2 linked regions of the Homo sapiens genome follow. The protein of the gene in region 1 purifies or fractionates together with the protein of each later gene. This does not show direct contact. Each region holds a gene or a part of one and is shown in the gene's direction. Other genes may lie near its edges.

Region 1 (7,443 bases):
CAACAGAGCGAGTGTCTCAAAACAAAAAAACAAACCAAAACAAACAAACAAAAAACAACATTTATTTCAGTTTGCTTAAGGTCAAAATTCATTGTACCCTGGCTTCTATCATTATTCCACATTTCATTTCTTGGAGCTCTCCGATAACATCATGGCTTTAAAAGTTTTATTACAGGAAGTTTCATGCTTACATAAAAATATAATAGTACAGTTAATCCCCATGTCCTCATACCCATCTACAACAAACAGAACTTAAGGGCACTTTGGTTTCACTATTCCCTCCCTAACCTCAACCTCACATTATTTTGAAGCAAAACATGTTATTGGTAAAAGAAAATAAACCACTTTACATTTCTTTGGCTGATCATTTCCTTTTTGTATCTGTCTTTAAATGCTACTAGAAAAGGTATTTTCTGGATTATGGTAAATTTCCATAGGCTATATTTTTTAGGCTCTCATTCACCATCTTTCTTTCGTTTCCAAATATCTTAAGTTCTTTGATCAGTTTTTCTTTGGGTTTATTCTTGTTTATCCAAACATGCACTTTGGGGGCTTGGATCAGAGTCAACTATTTCTTTTGTACATGTTGGTTCTAATCACTTTAATAGCTTGTGTAATAGAGTTTAATACCTTCTGGCCTACATATTTGAGCTTTCCCGCTTTATACTCTAAATCCAATTTTAGAGTTGCATCTGCAAATGCGTCTCCATGGCAACATCTTCACTGTGATCTTTGTGTTTTCTTGATGTGGTGGAAAACGTTTGTATGGACTTTGATGTATGCTTTATCCTGGTGATTCTCAAACTGAATCAGGTTGTAAAGTTCAATGGAAGCCAAGAAATGGGATGGCATGAGCTCTTGGTTTACGTCAAATGTGTAAGTCAGGCATAATTTTACTACCAGAAAATATTATATGAATATAGATGTCTGCATTCCAACATAAAAGTAAAACTGCATACAGATTGCAAGGAATCACATATCCACTCTTTTCTTTGATCTATTGATTCTTGGCCATTACTGTGTGTCATCTGCTAACGTGAGCTGGAAGACAAGAATGGGTAATAAAACTCGACAGTTACAAAAAAATTAGCCAGGCGTGGTGGCAGGCGCCTGTAGTCTTAGCTACCTGGGAGGTTGAGGCAGGAGAATTGCTTGAACCCGGGAGGCAGAGGTTGCAGTGAGTTGAGATCACACCACTGCACTCCAGCCTGGGCGACGGAGCGAGACAGACAACAACTTGATAGTATGTTTAGAGAAGGGAAACTTAAAATACAACTTTCCTATCCACTAACTGAATTTCTTTTTAATTAGGAAAAGACCCCAATATTCTCTTTTAGTAGCGGAGCGTGTTGATCCTGCCTGAAGTACACCAGTGTTCCGAAGGTGCATCTGGTGATCTGGTATGCAGTAATCTGACCTTCTGATTAATAATACTGTGTTAATTGACTCAGGGATGATTCTTAGTTTTGAGTCACAAGGAATCAATACAGTTCCTTGTGAACCCTCATTACATAAGTAAAGTGCTTATAAAAATGTAGTGTTGGCCAGGCACGGTGACTCACGCCCGTAATCCCAGCTACTCGGGAGGCTGAGGCAGGAGAATTGCTTGAACCTGGGAAGCGGAGGTACAACTTCCAACTTAAAATTTTACAAAATTTACTCCAGTAAATTTTGTCAGTGAGCTAAGATCGCACCACTGCACTCCAGCATGGGCAACAGAGTGAGACTCTGTCTCAAAAACAAAACAAAACAAAACAAAACAAAACAAAACAAAATAAAAAAACTAAGCCTATGTGAAAAAGCCAAATTGGTAATTCAACAGATTTGTCATAAGAAGTACCGATCTCTTCCTAAACAAAAAATGAAAAAAACTAGTTTTCTGGCATGGGTCACGTCTGGCTGAGAGAAAGCAAGGAGTGGGTGTCCCCTGTGCCTCCTGTCTTATCACAAGCAAGGAACTTCTTGAGAAGACACTGGGTGCTTATCAGCACTCAAGCCAGAGCTTTGGTGGTCACTGCTCAGGTATTCTAGTTAATTTCTGCAGCCTGTGGGGTCCACAGGAGGAACCCCTATCTGTAGGAAGGTATCATGCTTTTGCTTTTTTTTTTTTTTTTTTTTTGAGACGGATTCTTACTCTGTCGCCCAGGCTGGAGTGCAGTGGCACGATCTTGGCTCACTGCAACCTCTGCCTCCCAAGTTCAAGCTATTCTCCTGCCACAGCCTCCTGAGTAGCCGGGACTACAGGTGTGCACCACCACACCTGGCTAACTTTTTTGTATTTTTAGTAGAGATAGGGTTTCACCATGTTGGTCAGGCTGGTCTCAACACCTAACCTCAAATGATCCACCCAGCTCGGCATCCCAAAGTACTGGGATTACAGGCGTGAGCCATCGCATGCAGCCGCTTTAGCCCTTTTTATAGATGAGCAAACAGACCCAGAAAAGTAAGTCATCGCTCAAGGGACACAGCCGGTAAATAGGACTGGAACTGTTCAGCTCTTTGGCTCTGATCAGGATTACAACTTTGCAGACCCTTTGTCTAGATTCTAAATGCCAAGTGCATTTTCCAGAAAAACATCCATTAATGGTAGATAGGGTTATCACCATCACCTACTGTTTTACTTTGCTAGGGGCGTCATGACAATGTACGACAGACTGAGTGGCTTAAACAACAGAAATGTATTACCTCATAGGTCTGGATTCTCAAAGTCCAAAATCAAAGTTTTGGCAGGGTTTGTTCCTTCTGAGGGTTGTGAGAGGAGGCTCTGTTCCAGGCTGCTGTCTTTGGCTTGTAGATGGCCATCTTCTCCCTATGTCTCTTCATATCTTCTTTTTTTTTTTTTTTTTGAGACAGAGTCTTGCTCTGTTGCCCAGGCTGGAGTGCAATAGCGTGATCTTGGCTCACTGCAACCTCCACCTCCCGGATTCAAGTGATTCTCCTGCCTCAGCCTCCCAAGTAGCTGGGATTACAGGTGCGCAGCACCACACCCAGCTAATTTTGTATTTTTGGTAGAGATGGGGTTTCGCCATGTTGGCCAGGCTGTCCTCGAACTCCTGACCTCAGGTGATCCATCAGCCTCAGCATCCCAACGTGCTGAGAATACAAGTGTGAGCCATCACTCCTGGCTGCCTTATCTTTCATAGTGCCAGTGGTTGGCAGTGGATAGTTGCGTAATATTTGTTCTCAGTCTATTCCTGAATGTTTCTTTCTTTCTTTTCTTTTTTTTTTTTGAGATGTAATCTCACTCTCTAACCCAGGCTGGAGTGCAGTGGCCAATCTCAGCTCACTGAAACCTCTGCTTCCTGGGTTCAAGTGATTCTCCTGCCTCAGCCTCCCGAGTAGCTGGGATTACAGGTGCCCGCCTTATTTTTAGTAGAGACTGGCTTTCACCATGTTGGCCAGACTGGTCACAAACTCCTGACCTCAAGTGATCCGCCTGACTTGGCCTCTCAAAGTAATTCCTGGAATTACAGGCATGAGCCACCGCGGCCGGCCATATTCCTGAATGTGTCTTGAAGATATTTCACCTGAGTATTGCATTGCTTTTTTTAAAAAAAAATTAATATTAAAAACGAAGTTCCATTCATGTTTTTAAACAGCAAGAAGATGTTAAAAACTTTAAGCAAGCATCACAGTAATGGATCTCTGTCAGAAAAATGAGACTGACTTAGAAAATGCTGAAAATAATGAAATTCAGTTCACAGAAGAAACAGAACCAACCTATACTTGTCCAGATGGAAAAAGTGAAAAAAATCATGTTTATTGTCTTCTCGATGTCAGTGACATTACGCTTGAACAAGATGAAAAAGCCAAAGAGTTTATTATTGGAACTGGATGGGAAGAGGCAGTGAGTATCTTTCTGAGTCACAGCTTTTCTGTCTCTCGCACATCAGTGTTTTGGTGCAAGCCTCTTTTTCCCAAAAATAGTTAATATTACCAAAAAATGTGGAATCAATGACATGTAGAAACCCTGGAATTGAGGTAAAATATTACTGATGATAAGAGCAGCACCTACTGTGGGTATTTATGGCCACTTAGTATGTGGACAGCACAGTACTAAGTACTTTGGATACATTAATTCATCTAACCTCTCAATAGCCATATGGGGCAAGTTTTCTTCCCAGCCTCGCTTTGTGGATGAGTATACTGAGTCACTTGGAAGATAAAGTTACATGCTCGAGATCACCCAGCCAATAAGTGGCCAAGGCAGGGCTTGAATCCAGGTCTCCTGGACTCTAGAACCCTGAGCTCCTTAGCAGCTGTGCTGAACTCCCTGAGAGAACTGAGGCTTCTTTCCTAATGGCTCTACTCAGAACTCTGTGGGTTTTTTTTTTTTTTTTTTTTTTCCCTGAGATGGAGTCTCTTTCTGTCGCCCAGGCTGGAGTGCAGTGGCGCGATCTTGGCTCACTGCAACCTCTGCCTCCTGAGTTCAAGCGATTCTCCTGCCTCAGCCTCCTGAGTAGCTGGGATTATAGGTGCCCACCATGCCCAGCTAATTTTTGTATTTTTAGTAGAGACGGGGTTTCACCATATTGGCCAGGCTGGTGTCAAACTCTTGACCTTAGGTGATCTGCCCACCTCAGCCTCCCAAAGTGCTGGGATTACAGGCCTGAGCCACTGCGCCTGGTCTGCAGGCTTACTCTTAAACAATTCATAGAATCAACAATAGAATCCTATATTTAAAACTATAAGAAAACTAAAAAAAAAAAAAAAGCATAAAACTATGAGAAAACTTGGTCTAATCCAGTGATTAAACATAGGATTACCAGATAAATACCTAATTTATCAGTATAAGTATGTCCAAAATGTGGTCCTATATTTTTACTGGCAACCCTTTTTTAATGGTGATCTCTGTGGCAAGATCAGCCAGAGGACTCTGGGCGTGTATGGGGAGTAGGTATCCCTGGGTACGCAGGGCTCCTCTGCATTCCAGGACCTGCCTCTGCTCCTCGGTCTCCCTCCAGCCTCTCCAAGCAACAGTGTTCCCCAGGTAAGGGAAGCAGAGACTGGCGGTGCCCGAAATCCTTGTTGGTGGGACAAGTATGAACGGTTTTCATTTTATTTTAATGGCTTCAAATTTAAATGTGCATTTGAAAAGAAATATAGTCAGCACATCAAAGTGGCCATTTACAAATACTGTTGCTTAGTGTTTTAGTATTAACAAATGCTCTTGCTAGTATTTAGGATTAACAAATACTATTACAAATACTGTTATTGCTTTATAGCGGTGAAAGTAGGTATTACACTTTTTCATGCTTTGCAACTTTGAAGGATTTTTTTTTTAAGTGAATGAATTTTAAGAAAATTATTAGTGGGGGAAGGGGTAGTAAAAAAATAAATAAAAATAAGAATATTGTTTCACATAAGACTGCCAAAATGGGAATGTGGCCAAAATTGGGGCAAGGACAGTTTGGGCCCCTCAGCTGGAGGAGTAACATGCCGCTTTATTTGCAGGTCCAAGGGTGGGGAAGGACTTCTCCAGCTGCCTGCATCTGGCCGAGGAAGATACCAAAAAAGGCGAGGGTAGGGGAAGGTGCCTGCAGCGACTGCTTGGTGTGTGTTAACCTCTCCCACTGGAGCCTCCAGACCAAGCCTCCTACTGAGGGGGGCCCAGAGAAGGATCAGAGCAGCCCCTCCCAGACTCAGGCAGCCCCCCAGGGCCCCAGCACTGCTTCCAGGGCAATTAGCGACATCTGCTTTCCCACCTACTTTCGAGCAGAGAAAAAAAGTCTGCAAATCAAGGAGTTTATTTGGTGCAACAAAGACTGGGCCATCCCCGGCACTAATAGGGGCAAGGCCTCTGGGAATCCCAGTGGAGGGGCCCACAGAGGGCTGTCCATCCCAGGCCCCCTGACTTCCAGGGCCCTCCTAGTTCTGCCTCCCCTGAAGGCTTCACTTTCAAATGCTTTGGATGTTCTGGGTAAGAAGAGTAAGAACTCTTTCTTGCAGTCAGAAGAGAAGGTGCTGGATGTGGAAAAGGATGGGTGTGTGGCTTATGCATATGGCTTGAAAACAGCAGATGGGAAAGGTGAAAAAAGAGCCAGTGAGCTGGCCAAACACCCTATGGTCAACGACACGCCATCCTCCCCTTCCCCAGCGGCCCAGATATCCCTGCTGACCGATCCGGAGCAGCGCTGCCTGCATTGGTCCCTCCTGTCTGAGAAAAACCTGGCGTGCCCTCCAGACCCCAGCAACGTTCGCTACCTTGCTGCCTTGCAGCTTCTGCAGAAACGGGGAGTGCAAAGCTACAAATCCAAATTCAAAGCCAAGGAGCCAAGATCTCCTGTGATCACCCGAAAGCATGTTCTCCCAAAGGCCAAGCAGGAAAACAGGCCCCAAATGCTGGAGACCAAAGTTTTCCCAAGACCTGTCTTGCCGTCTCTCACAGTGAGCAGAGTTATCATTCCTGTCTCTACCCACAGGATCCTCTGAGCGGTTGCGGTAGAACCCCTGGGAATAAGCACCGTTTGAGATGCAGCCATCCTTTCTCTTTCTTCTCTCTCATTTCCCACCCACCCCCCACTCTCTCTTTCTCTCCTCCCCGTCAGTCTGTCTTTACTCTTCTTTTCCTCCATTTTTTTTTTGTAGTACAACTGAAGAAAACTGAACCTCAGTGGATTGTTGGGATTTATTTTCTAAAACACCATATTCATGTGTTAACGTGCTTCTGCTACTTAGCCATTCACAAAATGCCAATTGGTCTTGCCAGCCCCAGCCTCTGCCTGCTTCATGTCCACTCCCAGCAGAAGCCACGCAGAAAGTGGGGAATCCAAAGGGCCTCCTTCCCTCCATGCTGGCCGCACGTCAGCCCAGAGCCATCTGGCAGGTGTCCTTTCTGCCCCACCCCCGTGCCTCAAACTAAGTATACTGGGCTGGTTTAGACCAAACTGCCTGCTGATTTTTTGAACGAAGCAGGTGTCTATGTGCTGCCTCATTTGCTGTTGCAACAAAGATCTGAAGAATTGCTTTAATAAAAAACTCCAGGCCGGGCACAGTGGCTTACGCCTCTAATCTCAGCACTTTGGGAGGCCAAGGCAGGTGGATCACCTGAGGTTGGGAGTTCGAGACCAGCCTGACCAACATGGAGAAACCCTGTCTCTACTAAAGTAATACAAAATTAGCCGGGCATGGTGGCGCATGCCTGTAATCCCGGCTACTCAGAAGGCTGAGGCAGGAGAATCGCTTGAACCCGGGAGGCAGAGTTTGTGGTGAGCCGAGATCGTGCCATTGTACTCCAGCCTGGGCAATAAGAGCGAAACTCCGCCTCAAAAGAAAGAAAAGAAAACTCCAGCTTGTGTCCAGGACGTCCAAGGCATTGGAGACCCTGTGCGTCCAGGGTGTCACACCCTCAGATTGTTTCCATGTATATACACTATCGTCTCCTGCATTTTCAGGGTGCCATGTCCTCAGATTGTACCCTCATACTAATCTCTGTGTCTGGAA
Region 2 (7,724 bases), on another chromosome or scaffold:
CTAAAATATAGGGACACCAATAAGAAATCATAAATTACATGTAAGATTAAAACAGAGGTTTTGAATGAAAAACTCTAATATTCCATCCTCTAGACACTTGAAGAAAAGCAGGTTTAATCAGAGGCCAAGAGGGTGGATGAAAATTTTGCTAAAGATGATAAAGTGGGATCCTGGTACTATTAATAACTTGGTACTTGATAACATTTGCCCTTATTTATAACATTATGTCAAAACATATAACAGGTGTAACACTAAATATCCTTTATGCTCATTAGTCATTGTTCGTGTTGAACTTTAGCTTGTAAATAAATTAGAGAGATGAATAAAAATTCCCCCTCATTGGAACGGCAGTGGTGCTAACTAAACCACTTGAATCATGCAGTTGTAGCCCTTCTCACTTTTGCTTTTCTTTGTTTGATCATTTGATTAATGACTTCTCCACTGGCCCAAAGATCTATAAGGGTAGATATCTCATCAGTTTTTGCTAATCATTACATCCCCGACACTTAAAAGAGAGCCAAGTACACAGCTGCTCAAAAATAATTTTTGAACAGATGAATGGGTGAGTGAATGAACAAATGAGTAAGAAAGAGAAAAAGGAGTGGCCTAAAGAACATAGAATTATAGATGTGTTAAAAATGAGTCTCTGACATTACGTTTATTCTCTGTCTAGCCAAAGAGAAGAAAGCAGTAGCCAAAACAGGGGCATAGAAGGAGTTTCCCAAAGGATAAAGACAGTTAGTAGGACAATTTGCTTGCCGAAAATAGAGTACCTCAGTGTGTCCAAGTTTGGTTTGGTTGCTGTTCCAAAATAAGAGGGATTGAAATTGATCAGCCTTAGGATAGTTGAGTGGCAAAGAAGGCCACCTGCAAGTACAATTAGTGGTATACCAAGGGTGGGCCAGTAGGAGAGATCTGCACAGCAAGCAGGCAAACGGGTGGGTGGGAGCACTATCTGTAGAGAATTTAAAAAGAAAATCAGTCTTTTTTTTTAGTATTACTTTGTAGTTGCAATTCTAAAAAATGTCAGTGATAAAATATTCCTCTGTAACAAGATCATTTTGGTCTAAGTTCTAAAAAATTCCTGTAGTTACTGTTTTGAGTTTTAATTACATATATGTAAATTCAAAATTAGCATATTTTAATTACTTACTTTTTAATAAACCTTGCAGTCTAAGTTGAAATTGATTCAGAAAACTTCTAGTTGTACAACAGGTCCCCAACACAGGTGTCCTTGGGTACACGTTTGTTTAAAAGTAAAATCCTCATAGGGCAGTTTGAAAAATCATTTGGCCGTCCCTTGACGTAAGTATTTAGCATTAGTCGTAGGTGTTTTAGCCTGAGATTGCCAGAAAATAGAGCATGATACAAGGACTTGCTGAAAATATTTTATTTGGGAAGTGTGATCCCAGGAAGCATGTGAGGAACAGATGGGGAGAACCAGGGAAGGATGGAGCGCCAGTACAAGGATGTGTTATCAAGCTGGCCATTGCTTCAGGAGAATGGCTGCTTTGTTTAGCAAAGACCACCAGAGAAGCTCCATGGAACACATTTCTGAATCCTTTCCTTGCAGATGGAAAGAGGAGTATTTATCCATGGGCTCCCACCATAGGCTCTTTAATCTCTCATGCTTCTAGGTTTTGGTTCACATTGTAACTTCAACTAAAAAGCCCTGGGTGGGGGTAAGATGCAAGGGGAGCCCAGAGCAAAGCACTTTCAGATTATACCTGTGTGAAGCTGGTTAGAGCCCACTTAGAACTGGCTGTTCCTGTGGTGGCTAAAAGCAACAGGTAAGGCCCAGATGATCTGAAGTGGTGTATGGAGGCTGTGATACATGGCAAGTAATATGATTTTATTATAGATCTGCAATTTTTTATAGGTTCCTTTCCTATGAGGACTTCAATGTCCTACATACAATAATCATTGGGTCTGATAAAAAAATTCCCAAGTTTTCACCATTTGTTAATTATTTGAATATTTATTGAATATGTACTAATATTTATTGAGTGTGCCAGGCTTTATGCAGGGATAGAAATGTAAATATGACAGATTCTTGACTTTCATAAAGCTCACTGTTTTATCAACTCTATGCCTTCCACTGTAGTGACACAGTGGCACCCCTCCCCCGAGCCACATCACCTTTTTTTAAAGAAAGAGTCTTAATCCATCAGCCATGCTGGAGTGTAATGCGGCAATCATAGCTCACTGTAACCTGAAACTCCTGGGCTCAAGTGATTCTCCTGCTTCAGCCTCCCAAGTAGCTGAGTCTAAAGACATGAGACACTATATGTAGACACTACACTGGCCTAATTTTAATTTTTGAGGAGGTGGAGTCTTGATATGTTGCCTAGGCTGGTCTTGAACTCCTGACCCCAAGTGGTCATCCAGACTTGGCCTCCCAAAGTGCTAGGATTCCAGGCATGAGCCACTGTGTCTGGCTGGCACTTTAAAAAAAAAAATACAGTCCCCTTATACAATCAGAATTATTAGCACAATGAATAGTAAATGCTATGCAAATCTAAAATGACCAGAGGAGTGTCCCATTAGATAAACCACTCTACTATTTTTGCAGGAAGTCTCTTACCCACAGGCTATAATGGCTTATGTCAGCCCTGGGAGTAGAGACTGTTTACTTTATTATGTATGTACTGCCTAGGGATGGGGAGGCTGAAATTTAGACAGATTTCTCTACTTATCTCTAAGGCACCTCTGAGGCATTAAAGAACATTTGGGGAAGCTGAAATCCAGGAGCTACACCAGCAGCAGAAGTGGCCACTCCTCCAATCACCTGGCAGTCTTCCCAGGCAGAAGGTAGAAGATGCCTGGCCTCCTTGCCAGCACTCCTTCCTTGAGCATCCCAGTGGCCAAACCACCACCAGCCGACTCTACCCAAAGTGCCTGGTTGCAGGAGCCAGGCACTCAGGTGGGAAATACCTTGATTCTTTAAAACCTTTGATGCAAAGTTAGCTGCATTCTGTCACAAGGAAAATGCCATGCCAGGGACATATTTATATGACAATAAACTTTTAGTGCCTTAGAAAGTTGCTGAATAAAACTAAAATCAGAATAAAATTAATCAGATGCTAACATTTTGGAGAGCAGGTAAGTTTTCCTAGCTCTGTTAGTGGTTTCCTTCACTCCAGACCTATCTTCTGGCCTTCCGTGACAATGAAGCCCTTGGTAACATCATGCTTATTACCCCCGAATTAGCTGATGTATGAGGAGCTGTCACCGTTCCTTAGTATTCACATTAAAATCTCAGGGCGGAATGACCAGAGCATGCCGGGTGCTTTATGTGGCAGTCAAGGCAGCGAGGCTGCTGGAGGCTTTCAAGGGGAACTTTCCACCCGTGGGGCGTGGCGAGGCCTTTGTGTAACTGTGAACAGGGCAGAGGTCCCAGGCTGGGAGCGCGAAGGCCAGAAAGGTAAACTCAATCGGCATTTTAAAGCGCTTGCTCTAGTGATTGAGCACATAGCCCTCTAGAAGCAGCCCTACTTCGCCCTCCAAAGAGAATTTCGTGTTTCAAAAAAAAGTAACGATTTCCTCTGGGGAAGAGATCTGCAGTCCTGGGGTCCCTTTCTCCTGGTGCCAATGGTAGAGTTGGGGAGAAAGTTCCCGATAGAGAGCATAGGAGGAAATGCGCCAGCTGTGCTTGCCTTAGAGACATATGTGAGTTGAGCTCTCTCTCTCCTCTCTCTCTCTCTCTCTCTCTCTGTGTGTGTGTGTGTGTGTGTGTGTGTGTGTGTGTGTGTGTGTAGGTGGCGAGTGGAGAGGGTTAAGGCTGCTTCTTTGCTGGGGGGAAAAGAAAGGCAAAAGTGTGAGGATACACAGAGCAGGGAACGAGTGGAGTCCCCTCTCCACCGGGGCAGTGTGAGAACGGAGGGCGTGCAGTCAGGGGGTCCTAGGACTTGGGTGGGTGCTGCAGAAGTGACCAGGAGGGCTGACAGGGTGGAGATGCAATCATCAAGCTCCAAATCAATCATCCACCCCTTCAGAGTCCCTGTCCTCCATTAAGACAAAAAAATGTTTAAAACATATTGGGGGCAGAGGAAGAGTGAAGAGATTGGACCACGTTAGCTGCTTAGTCTAGTTCCCTCCTCCACAAGGCAATCGGATGACCCCAGGATCTCAATGTTTAGGAAAGTCGTAGGAGCCCTCACTGGGAGGCACATTTTTAGTCCAGAGGCACGACATTTGATGGTTTAATCTTCACACTACAAACTAGCCTTGGGACGTTATATAAACCATGTTAACCTCGATGTGCCTCAGTTTCCTCTTTGTCCCAGGAGAGTAACGCGTTCTCTGTCTTCACAGGGATGTGGTGCGGGTGAGACTCAATGCACTGTGCGAAAGCTCTCCCAAGCCAGCAAGCACCACGCTCTCCCCGCGGCAGGAAAGTACGTTGGTGTCATCCTAGAGCCCCAGAGGGCTGAGGGAAGACTCGAGCTCTAAAATTAGCCGCTTCCAGGCCCGGCGCCGGGAATGCCCTCCAGTTCGCCGCGCCTCCTCCGCCGCCCCCTCCCGCGCGCCCCCTCTCCCCTGCGCCACGCTCCTAGATCGCTAGTCATCCCCGCCGCCGAGGCTCCTCTCCCCCTCGCCCTTTTCGCTCGCGGTTTGGGAGGAGGAGACTGCGAGAGACAAGCGCGAGGGGGAGACTGGAGAGGGGCTTGGCCGTGCGTCGGCGTCGGCTGTGATGGGGAGCCCGGAGCAGCCAGGCGGCGAGCAGTAGCGGCGGCGGCTGCAGCTCGGAGCAGACAGGAGAGCCGGCGCTCCTCCCCGCAGGCTGCGCTGTGAACTGGCCTGCGGATTGGGATCTCGCGCCTCCCGTCCCTCTCCTCCCGCTGCTGTTCTCTTCATCTCGGCTCCCCTCCTCCGCTTGCGAACCCCCGGCGGCGGCGGCGGCGGCGTCCCGAGCGCAGAGCGCTTCTGCTCGCGGCCTCAGTCCCGGCTAGCGCGCGGTGGGCGCTGCGGCGGCAGCAGCCGGGGGACCGGCTCGCCCGGAGCAAGAGCGCCGAGCACCGGGTGAAGAAGACCACGGGGGAGGCGCCTCGTAGAGCCGTGGATCGCCAGCGGAGGCAAGGGTGCGTGGGGATTTGTAGCGTGATGATTTGGCTGCCTGGTGCACCGACTGGAGCGCGCCTGCCGGAGCACAGCCTCAGCTGCTGGGTGCAAATGGGCTGCGAGGTGGGCTGGGGAGGCGAGAGCCGACGAAGCGCGTGGGGGAAACTTTTCACCTTGTAAAGTTCCAACCTCCGCGCAGCCCCGAGCCGCCGTTGCTACCGCTGCAAACAGGAGAAGAGGGTGGCTTGGCCCCGCGGCGGGAGCCGGGAGGTTTACACGGAGAGTTGGCCAAGTTTGGGGCTGAGGATCTGGGGAGGGGTTGCGAGGGGGGTTGCGGATCAGTGCACCCATCCCCGGCTCCCAGCCGCCCCTGCAGGTGGATGAGAAGGTTCAGGTGGCGAGCCTGCTTGGCAGCCGGTGCCTCTCGGGCGCAGTGGGGGATGTTCAGATGCCGATGGATGATGCACTTAGGGGACCCCGAGGTGCAAGTTGGGTCATCGCTAGGCGAGGCGCGGCGCAGAGAGGGAGCCCAGCCTCCACTTTCGCTAGGAAAGGGAAAGGGTTACCAGTCTGCGGGTCCGTTCCCCACGCCTGACTCGGGCTTGCGGGGCTTGTGGTCAGGGTGAGATGTAGTGAACGGCGGCGGCGGCTCTTCGACTGGGGACGACATCCTTTACGGAGTGGTTGGGGACAGAGACTGTCCCTGCTATCTTGACAAGGAGAGGGAACCGGAATGCTTTGCGAGAGTGCATGATTTTTGGCGGGCGTGTGGGAAGGCTGCTTGTCTTTGAAAAGAAAGCAGCGCGGGTCTGACCATCCCCAGGAGTGCGGAGGAGCTGTCTCCGGATTGGGGGCGAGAACGCCAGGGGCACCAGCTCCGAGCTCAGGCCCCACTCCCGGGCGGTTCGGGACGAATCCCCTCTACAGGCCAGTGTGTGTGCAGGGCAAGTGTAGGGGGCTGAGGGGCGCTGGCGGGGAGGCAGTAGAGGTGGCCTGGACCATCTTGGCGCGGCGCGCGGTGAGCGCGAGGATTCCGCCAGTGGGAGTCGCTGAGCTAAAGTGCATCTGGCCCCCCGGCTTGCATGATGGCGAGCCCGGATATTTTTAGCTGTGCTGTGATCTGAATTCCCTCCTCTCCTCTCTCGTTGACTTTTGTCACATGTGCTTTCCGAGATGGTTTAACATTGAACATGATTGGGCTTTGCGGAAAGCAACTTTTATTCACTTTCCACCGTTCTCCTCTTGTGGGCGGGGGGTGGCGGGGGCGTGCTTGGGGCAAGGATGCAGGGGTGGCCGGAGTTTGGCTGCGAGCTAAGAGAGCCGCTTGGGTTGCTCGGGATGAGAGGAACAGGGGTGCTCCCGGGGTGTGGGTGTGCTGGCGGTGACATCCTGAGGCTGCAGCTCGCTGGAATAATGGGCTCAAACCAGGCGGTGGAGAGGGGTCCCCGGAATGGACGTCGGGGGCGGGGAGGCTGCGGAGACCCTGCGAGGTCTCCGTGAAGGACTAGGAGGGGCTCCCGGGAGGGAGTGGCGCCTGCGGCCCGGAGCGTGGGCGGCCGGTGGCTCTGGCACGCGGAATCTGGTGGACTCCTAGCGCCTCGGCCGGGAGCTCCAGCTCCATCCCGCCGCCGCCGCGCGCCCAATGGGACTCAGCTTCGGGTTTGGGCGAACCTGCAGCAGCCGCGGCGGGAGGGAGGGACGCTGGGACCGCGGTAATGATTGAAGTCTTTTTCCCCCCTCTCCCCTCCTCCCGCTCCTCTCCGCCCCCAGACTCTGGCGCGTTTGTTTTCCAAGTTGGATCCCACTTCCATTTACAAGTGTCAGACAAACCCGCGAGAACCTCCCCCAACCCGCCCCGGCCCCAGCCAGACTAGGGAGGGCGCCCAGGGGGAGGGGGCGAGCTGTCTGGGCAGTGCCTGGGGAGGTGCGACGCGCCCACCCGGGGCTTGAGCGGCTGGGGTTCCTGTGCGTGGGTCCTTAATGTTTAAAAGATACACATGAACAGCAACAAAACCCAAACCACTCGTGGCCACTTGTTTTCTGCCGCTTTTCTCCCACTTGCCTCGGACATATTAATTTTCTGGCCCCGACGCTAGTCTTTTCAAAGGCGAGTCCGGGGTAGTGGGAGGAAGGGGCGGGGGAGCAGGCCTACCAGTTCATCACGGTGGATTTGTGCTCCTGGCTTTGTTGCTAGGATTAGATTCTCTGATTGTGCCCAGGCTAAGTTAAAATAAAAGCAGAGAGACAGAGAAGCGGCCAGAAAGACTGCAGACGACTTTGCCTGGATCCAGGCGGCAAACTCAGGTGGTGGAAAGGGGAAGCCCGCCATCTAGGAATTGAGGACCGAGGTGCCCACATCTCAGTATCGATCAAACAGAGCCCAGATTTCTTCTCCACCAGCAGACACTGAACTTCTCTTCACATTTACTGAATGCTTGAATGATGTTCTGGTGTGACGTGGAGATTTGAATCTGAGAAGGAAAGGAAGGGAGGAGGGGATGGAGGAGAGAAGAGAGAAGAGATTTGAGAGACTGAGATTCTTCAGAATCCTAGAAATTGCACAAAGCCAACTGCTTCTGCTTTTTTTCTTTCTTCTTCTTTTTTTTTTTTTTCTTTATTCCTAAATTGGAGCAATTGAACAGTGAGAGAATAAGGAACAGCCA

The links. The genes of interacting proteins can lie anywhere in the genome.
Region 2: the proteins of C16orf46 (region 1) and FAT3 purify together in Homo sapiens (affinity purification with mass spectrometry; 2 studies listed by BioGRID and IntAct, with this or other methods). This does not show direct contact.

The regions. Positions count from the first base shown.
Region 1 is NC_000016.10:81,060,150-81,067,592, reverse strand, and holds the end of C16orf46 (uncharacterized protein C16orf46), read left to right. Parts: intron 1-1,311; 5' UTR 1,312-1,400; intron 1,401-3,599; 5' UTR 3,600-3,637; coding exon 3,638-3,847; intron 3,848-5,454; coding exon 5,455-6,432; 3' UTR 6,433-6,613; downstream 6,614-7,443.
Region 2 is NC_000011.10:92,220,094-92,227,817, forward strand, and holds the start of FAT3 (protocadherin Fat 3 isoform 1 precursor), read left to right. Parts: upstream 1-4,724; 5' UTR 4,725-5,081; intron 5,082-7,724.